Homo sapiens: one gene and its partners. The protein of the gene in region 1 purifies or fractionates together with the protein of each later gene. This does not show direct contact. Each region holds a gene or a part of one and is shown in the gene's direction. Other genes may lie near its edges.

Region 1 (3,500 bases):
TCAAGCAAGGGCCTCTTCTGACCAACGCTAACCCAGAACCATCCAGGGAAGGGGATCCAGGGAAAACAATTCCCAGCTTACCTACCAGGTGCACAGTCCACCCGGCATGTGAGGGCCCATCTCTTGGATGCTTATGAAATGGAACTTGAGGTTTGAGAAAGGACCAAACCTCCACTTTGTTCACCTGCGATTTGGTCAAGAGTTGGCTTGGCCTGTGTCCTGACCATAGCATGAAGCCTGTGTGGTGCGTGCCATTCCTTGGCTGCTGCTCGTAATGCCCTCCCACTTCTCTGTCTTCCCCCTTGACCGCAAAAGTAAAGTGCTACTGTTCTCTAATACTGCAAAAACAAGGCACCGGCAGATTTTAAGCTGATAAAAACCTGCTAAAGCTGTCATTGTATATACCTTTTAGGATGGAATGAGATAACATATCCCAGGGTAAAAACAAGAGTGAAATAGTTCTGAGAACTGTGAAACTGTCGTCCTCTTTCTAAATGACTTAATCCAACAGACAGGTGGTTTTTAATCACGGACCCCCTTCTTTTGTAGGCATTGGAACACCAACATCTTTTCACTTTAATCATGTAAGGAGTGCTACCGCTTACAGGCCACACACTGTTCCTTCATCATCATTGTCCCCAATGACTGGTATGAAAAATTGAGTTGAGACCTGCCCAAGGTCAGACAGCTAGTAAGTGGCAGGACACAGATACGAACTCAGGTAGGAAATTCAGAAGGATCTAAAGTAAAGGGGACACTTGGAGGCTGAAAAATACCCAAACGTAAGAAGACTGAGGAGCCCTGGGGTGAGCAGCAGAGTTGTGTTGCAGAACGTGATGAGGATTAGGGCTCAGCAGGTGTCAGCCATGGCTGGGCCTCCTCCAGGCTGTCTCCTAGGATATCTGGGCCATTGTAGGTCACAGTTTCTTTCCTGCCTCCCTCCCTTCTTCCATTCCTCTTTCCTCTTCCTTCTCCCTTTATGTTTTCCTTTCTTCTCCCAGATTTTCTCTTTCTTTTGCGTGTATGTGATCTCCCCATCTTCACTTTCTTTCTTTGTAATAGAATGGTCCATCTATTCAGCCAGCTGTTGATCCTAGCCTTTGAGCTTTGAGCAAATCTTTTTTTTTTTTTTTTGAGACGGAGTCTTGCTCTGTCACTGCGCAAGGCTAGAGTGCAGTGGCGCAATCTCAGCTCACTGCAACCTCTGCCTCCCTGGGTTCAAGTGATTCTCTTGCCTCAGCCTCCTGAGTAACTGGGATTACAGGCATGTGCCACCACACCTGGCTAATTTTTGTATTTTTAGTAGAGACGGGGTTTCACCATGTTGGCCAGGCTGGTCTCGAACTCCTGACCTCAGGTGATCTGCCTGCCTTGGCCTCCCAAAGTTCTGGGATTACAGGCATGAGCCACTGCACTCAGCCCCTTTGAGCAAATTTTAGCACATACAGAGAGGCTGTGTAGACAGACCTAAACATGGTCCCTGTTTTTTAGGAGTTTATCCTCCACTTTCAGTTTTGTTATGGGAAGCAGCTTCCCCTACTCACAGAAATTGTTTATGCAACCTATAGCATCACCTCTGCTCCTGAACCAAACATGGAGTCCACACCCTAACTCTGAGGGTGCCTGTAAGAGTCCTTAGAACATAGCAGTAATATAGACACCCAACTGGATAAGCCTCTTCCTCTCCCTCACCCCAAACCCCCCTATCCCTCTTGAGGGGTTGTTTTGGGGACCACTCCTGGTACCTGTCTGACCTCAGGATGCAGGCCCTGGAGTCCTCTGTTCCCTGTGTTCACCAGGTGTACAGCAGATAGTGAGGTCAAGACCTGCCTCTGGGAAAGGAGAACAAAGAAGGAAAAGATCTATTTAAGGAAGCAGTTCAGCAGTTGTCTTCTGTGTACAGAAAAGTCAGGGAGAGGCTGGTCTGTGGGTACAGGCAGCACCTGGGAACCAGGATGAAATTCAGAAATTTCCACACTGTTCTCTGGTACCAACATCTGTGGCCACTGAAGCCCGTCAGAGGGACCAAACCTGTATTTTCCTGAAGCAGGAGTGGGTCTTTGGGGCAAGTTTTTGTTGCCCCAAAGAAGGTGGATGGGGGCATCCACCTTCTTCCCACCTTGGCCAGTTATCCCAGCAAGAAGCTAAAACCAAGGCTGGCATGGGCCTGGCTGTCAGCCTCGCCTTTCTGGGGGCATTTCTTTCCTCCATTGCTGCTGGCCTGCCCTACATCAGGGCCCCCACCTTCCTCAGGGCTTTCGGTGCATCTGGGGTTGATGGTTCTCTGTCTCTCTCTCTCCAGGGCCAGGTCTGGATTAATGGCTTTAACCTTGGCCGCTATTGGCCAGCCCGGGGCCCTCAGTTGACCTTGTTTGTGCCCCAGCACATCCTGATGACCTCGGCCCCAAACACCATCACCGTGCTGGAACTGGAGTGGGCACCCTGCAGCAGTGATGATCCAGAACTATGTGCTGTGACGTTCGTGGACAGGCCAGTTATTGGCTCATCTGTGACCTACGATCATCCCTCCAAACCTGTTGAAAAAAGACTCATGCCCCCACCCCCGCAAAAAAACAAAGATTCATGGCTGGACCATGTATGATGATGAAAGCCTGTGTCTTTGAGGGATTCTACCCTGAACATACCTCACAGATCCTCCCTGTCATGCCACATTTCACTGATTGGAATGTGGAAATGGAAAAGGAATTTAGGATGTGCATTTTCACCTGAGGTTTCCCTGCATCCCTGCAGTGCCAAAGCCCCACCTTCAGGGACCACCTGGAATGTGTGAGGGGCTGACAGCACAGTAACGTGCATACATATCTGCAGGGCTGGAATGGAAGCTTTAAAGGTGGTAGTGATTTTTATTTTGGAAGAATCATGTTACCTTTTTGTTAAATAAAATTTGTACTCAAATGATGATGTCACTGTTTTTAATGTGCAGGTATTGAATTATATGGTCTGACTTAAATCATAACTAGACTTGAGTGGGCTGAATAAACCACTTCACTAACTTGAAGTTCAAAAGGATGGAAAATAGTCTTGGTTTGATCTGTGGACTGCTGCTTTTCTGATCGTTATTTGACTTGCTTTTGGACTAGATAACCTATAAATACAGCTCAAAACAATTATGCAAACAATCTAAATGATTAACAGTTGCACAGTGTACATAGTATGGTATATCTATATAGAAGCATAGTATTTTAGCCACTAAAATGGTGAGAGATCTATACTTATATGCAAATTTTTTGATACATGAAAAAACAGATTACCTTAAATTGGATCCCGTTTTGTGTGTTTCAACATAAGAACTTCACATATTCACACAGTACAGGCCTATACACATGTCAGTAGTCAGGCATGCACGTGTGTGTGTGCTGTGTATGTGCACAGATAGGAAAGGATGTGGTGTTTCTGATATTCCTGTCCTGACATGGAGCAGTAGCTCTCATTTGTTGAGGACTTGTTCTACACCATGCACAGTTCTGAGTTTATGTTTA
Region 2 (3,500 bases), on another chromosome or scaffold:
ACTGTTTGGGTTCCTATAAGCTATCTTTGTAATCACTTTATGGAGCAAGTATTATTTCAAGGAATTTAAGGATCCTAGACACTTAACTTTGAGATAATTACTGATTATTATGCAGTTGTAAAAAAAAGAGATCCCTGGTATCCTTCTCCCAGCATTCCCTGATGGTAACATCTTGTGTAACTACAGTACAATATTACAAACAAGATATTGACATTGGTACAATCTAGCCACCTTATTCAGATTACATCAGTTTTACCTGCACTCATTTCTGTGTGTATGTAATTTAGTTCTATGCAATTTCATCATGTGTATTAATTGTCTGACAACTACCACAGTCAAGTTACTGAAAGGATTCTTTACTTTTAAAGTGTATGCTTTTGAATCTTAAAGTCATTATAATTTTTTTTTTTTTTTGGTCCTCTTAGTGTATTGGAACAACACAAACTAACAAAAGAACAGTGGGAAGAAAGAATACAGAACTGGCATGAAGAACATAGAGGAATGTTAAGGTATTTGGGTAGCTATTTTCTATGTTTTCTTTTTTCCTTCAAAGTATTTTCATGTCGTAACATTTATTATTACATTATTTCCAAAAGATTGTTTGACTTATGTAAAGTACTAATTTTTAATTCCAGGTATTTTGCAACTTTAGTTTGATATGCTCCTACTTAAATATATTACATTTAGTTTTATTTCAACAGGGAGGATTCTATGATGGAATACCTGAAGATTGCACAAGATCTAGAAATGTATGGAGTCAACTATTTTGAAATAAAAAATAAAAAAGGAACTGAATTGTGGCTAGGTGTTGATGCTTTGGGTCTGAATATTTATGAGCATGACGACAAGTAAGTAAATTAGTTGCATAGTGAACTAGTCATTGTTCAGTGGTCTAAATGACGTTAATCTTATGTCCTGTTTTTCAAAGTAGTTTCTTGTCTTGATTACCCTTACTATTTTCAAACTAAAAGATGAATTAATGACACATAGACTTGTAGATATTTTACCTCCATTTTCTTATCACCTTGCAGTTTCAGAGTTCTACTTTTCAGTGTATTTATCAAATGAGATGATTGACTTTTATTTGAATTGTGCTGCTTTTAGCTCTTGTGAGTTATGTCTAGTAACTTAATTAAAATTTGCTCCCTCGATAGGTGAGAAATAATTCTTTAAAATGCTATTATGCTTGACAAATAGATTGAAATTGAACATACATAAGAAATCAGGAGCAATGAGAGAATGGATTTAATAAATATGTCTATCACATCTTAGAGGATTTTTTTGAACATTTATATATAGGAATTGTTTTAAATATGTTTGGACATTAATACAATAGAATATCCCTGTATTACACATATTGAACACTGTAATTATATCTTGAAATTGACCAAATAGTTTTTTATTATACATATATAATTCATCAATATTTTATTATATGTATAATATATGTATATTTACATATACATGTATATGTACTATACAAATACATGGGTAAATACTATATAGAGACGGTATATTATACACATACACATGCAATATAAAATACATCAGACTCTTACTTTTCAGGATTAATAACTCAATTGTCTTAGACTTTAATTTATTTACCATACCACATAAGCATGCAAGTCTATGCCAGTAATTAATGCCTTTTCCTAAGGCATTATTCTTTATTCTAGGTTGGCTCCAGAATTTTAATTTTTATTACTACAGATATCTAATAAAATACTAATTTCAAAGCATATGTGATTCCAAACAAGAGCATTTTACTATTTTTACCCTAATATCTTCTCATGTTTTTATTACAAAGCAAGTTAGAAGGTTATATCATTTAGAAGAGAAATTTTTGAAAAGCAAAAATGACTTCAAGACTAATTTTTGTAAACTGAATCTTTTTCTTTTGTTTTAGAGAATGGGATCTTGCTATGTTGCCCAGGCTGGTCTTGAACTCCTGGCCTCTAGCAATTCTTGCGCCTCTGCTTTCTCCAGTGCTGAGATTACAGGCGTGAGCCACTGTGCCTGGCTTCTTAATTTTTTTGGTGGTGGTGGTTCTGGCACATATTGGAGCAATTTTTTTAAATGTTAAAAAAGTTATTGTATTAGCTTCCAGGCTTACCTCACAAGAGTGTTATGAGAATTATATGAGGCAATTGCTTTAGAATTTTTCAAAGTAGCATATAAACGTAGCATAGTGTTCTCTAAAATACTATGTTGCATTCCTGCAGTCTCCGTTTTAAGCATGTTACTTTGACTTATATCAGGGGCCATTAGAGGGTCCTCTAATATGCTTATTGAGTAAAGAATGTTTTATGTAGAAAAGACTCTGCTGTGCTGCAGTACCTACTCTGCTTGAGAACTAAAAGGAATATAAATAGGTAAAAATTCATGCTGTGTTGTCAGAAGCCTGGCTAAAAGATGTCTTCTGGCCAGTATAGGTGTCAAAATCATTTCTCAGTCTTAGTTATTAGGACAATAGGACAATAGTGATGCATTTGATAGGTAGTCTGAAACAGTAAAATACATGAAAAGGCAGAAACAAAATCACTTATTCCAATATGATTCCCTATATCTTTGTGTGTAGGGTGGTAAAACGGAGTCAACTGCTGTGTATAGTCTCAAGAGTTTGAATTCCATCTCTATCATTTATCCAAATATTTATGTATGTGAGTGTTTAAAATTTTTGAGATATAATTCATATACCATAAGATTCTTTCAAAATATACTGAAAATTAAGTATTTTTAGTATATTCGTGAATATCCAGACATTTTCAAATTAAACACAGGAAGGAAGTACTGTTTTTTTATTTGCAGTAACTTGCCCGTAATTCACATGAGAAGTTATAAAGGCCTTTTTTTTTCTTCCCACTTCTTACACATATTTAAACTGTAGTTGTAGCTTGAATCCAAACAATAAAAACTGAACAGCTAGTTCAAACCCCAGGAGGCTCAGTTCTACACTTGGGTCACCAGGTAGTTTTTTTAGATAATTTTAGGAAAATACACTGCTTTTAAGGTTCATGACACATTTATGAAATCTTTGGACAGTTGTTTGTTTTATATGATTTATCAGTTTTCCCCTTAAAAGATAAGGTCAACTGTAGTTATGAATAAGTTAATACATTTTGAAAATCTGGAACTCTTAAGATTGGTCATTCAGTCAGTTTAGGTCCTAAACAGGAATTTTATTCATTGTTTCCTGCCTTTAATTAAGGAGATGCTTTCATTTTTTAAGGTTAACACCTAAAATTGGTTTTCCCTGGAGTGAAATCAGAAATATTTCATTTAATGACAAAAAATTTGTTATAAAGCCAATCGACAAAAAGGCACCTGTAAGTAATTTCTTTAATATTTTGTGTATTAACTGTTTAATATCTGCTAGTTTCCCATGATATCACTTGAAGAATAACAGTGTTCATTTATTAAATTGCTTCTGAGGACCATTCTCTTTCCATAGGTCAGCTTTCCCAGTGATGAAATAATATGTTAATAAAAATCCAAAGATT
Region 3 (3,500 bases), on another chromosome or scaffold:
AGTTCCGGCTGGGCACTGTGGCTCACGCCTGTAATCCCAGCACTTTGGGAGGCCGAGGTGGATGGATCACGAGGTCAGGAGTTCAAGATCAGCCTGGGCAAGATGGTGAAACCCCGTCTCTACTAAAAATACAAAAAAAAAAAAACTTAGCCTGTTGTGGAGGTGGGCGCCTGAAATCCCAGCTACTTGGGAGGCTGAGGCAGAGAATTGCTTAAACCTGGGAGGCAGAGGATGAAGTGAGCCGAGATTGCACCACTGCACTCCAGCCTGGGTGACAGAGCAAAACTCCATCTCAAAAAAAAAAAAAAAAAAATTACCCAGTTCCGGGTATTTCTTTATAGCAATGTGAGAATGGACTAATACAGAAAATTGGTACTGGGAGTGGGGCATTGCTATAAAGATACCTGAAATTGTAGAAGGAAGCAACTTTGGAATGGGGTAATGGGCAGAGGTTGGGACAGTTTGGAGGACTCAGAGGAAGACAGGAAGAGGAACGAAAGTTTGAAACCTCCTAGAGACTTGTTGAATGGTTGTGACCAAAATGCTGATAGTGGTATAGACAGTGAAGTTCAGGCTGAGGAGGGCTCAGAATGACCGCAGATGAGGAACTTATTGGGAACTGGAGTAAAGGCCACTCTTGCTATGCTTTAGTAAAGAGACTGGTGGCATTGTACCCCTGGTCTATGGATCTGTGGAACTTTGAACTTGAGAGAGGTGATTTAGGGTATCTGGTGGAAGAAACTTCTAAGCAGCAAAGTGTTCAAGATGTGACCTGGCCTCTAGCAGCCAGTGCTCATATTCATGAACAAAGAAATGATGTAAAATTGGAACTTACATTTAAAAGGGAAACAGAGCAGAAGAGTTGGAAAATTTTCAGTCTGACCATGTGGTAGAAAAGAAAAACCCATTTATAGGGGAGTAATTCAAGCAGACTGCATGAATTTGCATAAGTAAAGAGGAGCCAAGTGCTGATAGCCAAGACAATGGGAAAAAGGGCTCCAAGGCATCTCAGCGACCTTTAAGGCAGCTCCTTCTATCATAGGCCCAGAGACCTAGGAGGGAAGAACAGTTTCCTGGGCCAGGGCCCTGCCAGCCTCAGGACACTGCTGCCTGCATCCTAGTTACTCCAGCTCCAGCCATGGCTGAAAGGGGCCCAGATATAGCTCAGGCCTTCAGACGGTGCCAGCCCAAACCCTTGGAAGATTCCACATGCTGTTAAGCCTGCAGGTGCTGAAAGCCAAGAATTGAGGCTTGGGAGCCTCAGCCTAGATTTCAGATATATGGAAAAGCCTGGATGTTCAGGCAGAAGGTTGCTGCAGGGGCAGAGCCCTCATGGAAAAATCTCTACTAGGGCAGTGCAGAGGGGAAATGTGGGGTTGGAGCCCCCAACAGAGTCCCCACTGGGGCACTGCCTAGTGGAGCTGTGAGAAAGACCACCATCTTTCAGACCCCAGAATGGTAGATCCGCTGACAGCTTGCACCATGCACCTGGAAAAGCTGCAGCCACTCATTGCCAGCCCTTGACAGCAGCCGCGTGGGCTGAGCCCTGCAAAGTCACAGGAGTGGCACTGCCCAAGGCCTTGGGAGCTCACCCCTTGCTGCAATATGCCCTGGATGTGAGACATGGAGTCAAAGGAGATTATTTTGGAGCTTTAAGATTTAATAACTGCCCTGCTGGGTTTTAGCACGTGCATGGGGCCCGTAGCCTTTTTCTTTTGGCCGGTTTTACCCTTTTGGAATGGGACTATTTACCCAATGCCTATAATCCCATTGTATCTTGGAAGTAATTAACTTGTTTTTGATTTTATAGGCTTATAGGTGGAAGGGACTTGGCTTGTCCCAGATGAGACTTTGGACTTTTGAGTTAATGCTGGAATGAGTTAAGACTTTGGGGGCTGTTGAGAAGGGATGATTGTATTTTGTAATGTGAGAACATGATATTTTGGAGGAGCTGGGGCGGAATGATATGGTTTGGATCTGTGCCCCACCCAAATCTTATGTTGAATTGTAATCCCTAATGTTGGAGTTGGGGCTTGGTGGTAGGTTTTTTGTTTTTTTTTAGAAATCTCCATATTGTTTTCCATAGTGGTTGAACTAATTTACATTGCTGCCACCCATATATGTGTTACAATTTCTTCACCTCCATGCTAACATCTATTTTTTTTTAAGCTTTTTAGTAATAGCCACTCAGACTTGTGTAAGATGATTGATATTTCATTGTGGTTTTAATTTGCATTTCTCTGATGATTAGTGATGAACATTTTTTCATGTTTGTTGGCTGCTTGTATGTCTTCTTTTGAGAAATGTCTCTTAATGTCCTTTGCCCACTTTTTTTTTTTTTGAGACAGAGTCTTGCTCTGTCGCCCAGGCTGGAATGCAGTGGCACGATCTTGGCTCACTGCAAGCTCCGCCTCCCAGGTTCACGCCATTCTCCTGCCTCAGCCTCCTAAGCAGCTGGGACTACAGGTGCCTGCCACCATGCCCGGCTAATTTTTTGTATTTTTAGTAGAGACAGGGTTTCACTGTGCTAGCCAGAATGGTCTTGATCTCCCGACCTTGTGAGCCACCCGCCTTGGCCTCCCAAAGTGCTGGGATTACAGGCGTGAGCCAGTGCGCCTGGCCCTTTGCCCACTTTTTAATGGGGTTCTTTGTTTTCTTCTTGTTGAGTTGTTTGAGTGTCTTGTAGATTCTGGATATTAGTCCTTTGTCGGAGGCATAATTTGCAAATGTTTTCTCTCATTCTGTAGTTTGTCTCTTTGCCCTGTTGATTATCTTTTGATGTGCAGAAGCTTTTTAGTTAAGTCCCATTTGTTTATTTTTGGTTTTGTTGCATTTGTGTTTGGGGTCTTCGTCATAAGTTGTTTGCCTAGGCCAATGTCCAAAATGTTTAATCTATCTTGAGGTAGTTTTTGTATATGCTGGGAGACAGAGATCCAGTTTCTTCTGCATATGGCTAGCCAATTTTCCCAGCACCATTTATTGAATTAGGGTGTCCTTTCCCTGTTGTTTATATTTGTCAGCTTTGTCAAAGATCAATCTGTTGGATGTAAGTATGTGGTTTTATTTCTGGGGTTCTCTATTGTAGTCCATTGATCTGTGTGCGTATTTTTGTACCAGTACCATGCCATTTTAGTTACTATAGCCTTGTAGTATAATTTGAAGTCAAGTAATGTGATGCCTCTGGATTTGTTCTTTTTGGTTAGGATTACTTTGGCTATTCATGCCCTTTTTTGGTGCTGTATGGACTTTAGAATTGTTTTTCCTAGTTCTCTGAAAAATGACATTGGTGATTTGATAGGAATTGTGTTGAATCTACAGATTACTATGGGCAGTATGGTTATTTTAATGATAGTCTCCAAATCCATGAGCCTGGGATGTTTTTGTGTTTATTTATGACATATATGATTTGTTTCATAAGTGTTTTGTAGTTCTCATGGAGATCTTTCACCTCCTTGGTCAGTGTTTTCCTAGGTATTTTATTTTTTTGCATATGGCTTTTG
Region 4 (3,500 bases), on another chromosome or scaffold:
TGAGGATGAGGGCTGGAGGATAATGATGTAGCTGAGAATAGACAGACGAAATACTTTATTAGGCTTCTCAGGCTAGGAACTACCAGTTACCGTGAAAGGTGATGATGTAGCAGAAGTGAGCAAGTGGCCTGCCGAATTTGAGTGCAAGAGGAGGCACTGAGTGGGGAGATGAGCCTGGTTAAGTTCTTGCCTTTATACCAAAGGTCGTCTTCAAGGTGTTTTTGCCCAAGTAGGCAACTGTATGCTTATCAACCGTCTTGAAATTCTGCACAGAATTCTCTGGGTTTATACATTGCACAAATTTGAAGAACATTGTATAGTGGTCATCAGTTGTTATGATACACTGCTGCCTCACTGTGGGTGACCCAACCCATTTGTTACAATTTGTCCCCAGAGGTTATTCCCTCCCAGCCCCCCACAAAAAAAGACTGTGGGTCTTTTGACTGGGAAAATTACCATTATTGTGAGTACTATTTTTTTTTCTAAAGCGACCGAGTAGATCCTTTTCTCCGATAACTTGATAGAATACTTAGATTTTTAAAACAGACTACCAAATGAATTTAAAACCAAATTAATTCAACATTCTCATCTGGCCATAAATTGAGTTCTTTAACATGTAGTGAAGCAAAGGGTGATGTCCCCATTTTGGCACTTTGCTTTCTTAAGTTAGTGTTCATTAACACCAGCCCCAAACAGACTATTGTGATTATTTGGAGCCTTGAAGTAATTGTGTCCGTGGGGACAGTAGCATGTGACTAGGGTTCTCATTGAAACATGAGGTTTCTGGCATATTTTGAGAGGTACTGGGAAGGGATGTAAGGCAAAGTACCTCATTTATAACTACCAAAACAGGTTATGTTACAAGCAAGATTACAGCCTTACAGCATCAGTTTTGAAAGTAATAGAGTGAAATGATATAGCATAGTTTGAGATTATAACTTGTTTTAACCTCTCAGAATTAAGTTGTCCAAGACACCATCTAGTTTAAGCAGTTAATATAAGCTGCTTAAATGGTGGTAATAATAAGCAATATTACATGTTTATGATACTTGTTTTACTGTAAGCTACAGTAAATCTTTAGTACTTACAAACAGGGTGACATATTTTGTAGACTAAGACTGGTCAGATGATATTCTTTCCCATATTTTTGCAGAGGCTAGATGTTGAAAACAGTGAAGAAAAAAATACAATTTTTTATTGACTTCTGTAGGATTTATACAAAGCCCTTTTTTAAAAATGTGAAGTTTGAAAGTTCATACCATTTATTCACTAAATACAGTTTATCAGTATTTATCTCAGCTAGGTGCGGTGGCTCACGCCCGTAATCTCAACACTTTGGGAGGCTGAGGCAGGTGGTTCTCTCAAGTCCAGGACTTCAAGACCAGCCTGGACAACACAGTGAAACCCCATCTCTATTTAAAAATAATAAAAATATAAAAAAATTTAAAAAATTATCTCTGAATATAATGTCATAAATTTAGAGTGACAGTTGAAATGAAATCTTTCTTAACAGAAGGTTTATTTTTGTTTTTTGTTTTTTTCCTCAGGCTTCATGGTGTATTAGATAAACTTCGCTCTGTTACAACTGGTAAGATTCATAACTTTTTTTTTTAATTTCTGCTTGCTATGGCATATGATTTGTTTCTTTCTAAAGTCATAGTGCTTTGGGAAAAACCCATCAATTTCAAAACGGTTCATTTGAACTTTTTTAGAAAGCACATACTTTTATGAACTTAAGAGCAGTAAATTTAACATAATTCAAAGATAATTTAAGTGTGGGAGAGGGAGCAGTGCACTTTATCCGAAGGAAATAATTACATATATGTGCAAAGATTTAGCCTCAAGGATATTTCAGTATTTTATAATTGAAAACAATTTAAAAGTTCAGTCATAATAAACGAAATTGTTGTATTACCATGTGTGGAATAATATTTAACTATTAAAAATAATGTTGTGGAAGAATAACAGAATATACACGCATAAGATACATGTTTTAAAAAATGTGTATATATGCTCTTCCCCCGAAAAATCACCTTTGAGATAATTGGTGATTTTTATTATATTTTTAAAATTTTCTACAATAAACATACTGCTTTTGAATTGGTGATGAGGAAGGAAACGACTTAAAGTAATAAAAATAGATGGCCGGGCACGGTGGCTCACGCCTGTAATCCCAGCATTTTGGGAGGCCAAGGTGGGCGGATCATGGGCTCAGGAGATGGAGACCATCTTGGCCAACCAACATGGTGAATCTCCGTCTCTACTAAAAATACAAAAATTAGCCAGGCATCGTGGCACATGCCTGTAATCCCAGCTACTTGGGAGGCCGGGGCAGGAGAATCGCTTGAACCAGGGATTTGGAGGTTGCAGGGAGCCGAGAACGCGCCACTGCCCTCCAGCCTGGCGACAGAGCGAGACTCCATCTCAAAAATAAATAAATAAATAAAAATAAGAAATAAAAATAGATTAAAAGGACTGTATTTTTCTTTTCAGAACCCTCTAGTCTGAAGTCTTCTGATACCAACATCTTTGATAGTAACGTGCCTTCAAACAAGAGCAATTTCAGTCGGGGAGATGAGAGGAGGCATGAAGCTGCAGTGCCACCACTTGCCATTCCTAGCGCGAGACCTGAAAAAAGAGATTCCAGAGTTTCTACAAGTTCGCAGGAGTCAAAAACCACAAATGTCAGGTAAGAGTCTGGTGTAGACCTGCTGGGGGCAGATGGCTCTGTGTATGTGACATTTATATTAGTTTTTATATCTTTCAGTTTGCTGTTCTCAGCAATTTTTAGAAACAATGAAGTGATCGTGAGTAGTTTTTTGAATAAAATAATGGATAAGATCTAAGTATGATTATCTTTTATCACAAATTTAGTAAATCAAAGTTGAAAGAAAGTGCAATTTCAAAGCAGTTTTGAATGGAATATGTAAAGGGAGTATCCTCAGTTTTTTCATTGAAATTTTTCAAGTAAACATTCTTTAAAGATTTGGTGATAATTGCCCTAATTTGGCTGTAATACATTTTGTTGTTCTTTTAAATAGACAGACTTACGATGATGGAGCTGCAACCCGACTAATGTCAACAGTGAAACCTTTGAGGGAGCCAGCACCCTCTGAAGATGTGATTGATATTAAGCCAGAACCAGATGATCTCATTGACGAAGACCTCAACTTTGTGCAGGAGAATCCCTTATCTCAGAAAAAACCTACAGTGACACTTACATATGGTTCTTCTCGCCCTTCTATTGAAATTTATCGACCACCTGCAAGTAGAAATGCAGATAGTGGTGTTCATTTAAACAGGTTGCAATTTCAACAGCAGCAGAATAGTATTCATGCTGCCAAGCAGCTTGATATGCAGAGTAGTTGGGTATATGAAACAGGACGTTTGTGTGAACCAGAGGTGCTTAACAGCTTAGAAGAAACGTATAGTCCGTTCTTTAGAAACAACTCGGAGAAAATGAGTATGGAGGTTTGTATGTACTTTTAAATTCTGGCTTA

What was found.
Region 2: the proteins of GLB1 (region 1) and RDX fractionate together in Homo sapiens (co-fractionation; one large-scale study listed by BioGRID). This does not show direct contact.
Region 3: the proteins of GLB1 (region 1) and DNAJC3 purify together in Homo sapiens (co-immunoprecipitation; one large-scale study listed by IntAct). This does not show direct contact.
Region 4: the proteins of GLB1 (region 1) and ZC3H14 purify together in Homo sapiens (affinity purification with mass spectrometry; one large-scale study listed by BioGRID and IntAct). This does not show direct contact.

Annotation. Positions count from the first base shown.
Region 1 is NC_000003.12:32,996,147-32,999,646, reverse strand, and holds the end of GLB1 (beta-galactosidase isoform a preproprotein), read left to right. Parts: intron 1-2,302; coding exon 2,303-2,602; 3' UTR 2,603-3,030; downstream 3,031-3,500.
Region 2 is NC_000011.10:110,255,115-110,258,614, reverse strand, and holds part of RDX (radixin), read left to right. Parts: intron 1-425; coding exon 426-509; intron 510-701; coding exon 702-848; intron 849-3,208; coding exon of another isoform or gene 3,209-3,229; coding exon 3,230-3,326; intron 3,327-3,500. UniProt on the Homo sapiens protein: Probably plays a crucial role in the binding of the barbed end of actin filaments to the plasma membrane.
Region 3 is NC_000013.11:95,683,639-95,687,138, forward strand, and holds part of DNAJC3 (dnaJ homolog subfamily C member 3 precursor), read left to right. Parts: intron 1-3,500. UniProt on the Homo sapiens protein: Involved in the unfolded protein response (UPR) during endoplasmic reticulum (ER) stress.
Region 4 is NC_000014.9:88,569,537-88,573,036, forward strand, and holds part of ZC3H14 (zinc finger CCCH domain-containing protein 14), read left to right. Parts: intron 1-1,547; coding exon 1,548-1,588; intron 1,589-2,493; coding exon 2,494-2,689; intron 2,690-3,041; coding exon 3,042-3,471; intron 3,472-3,500. UniProt on the Homo sapiens protein: RNA-binding protein involved in the biogenesis of circular RNAs (circRNAs), which are produced by back-splicing circularization of pre-mRNAs.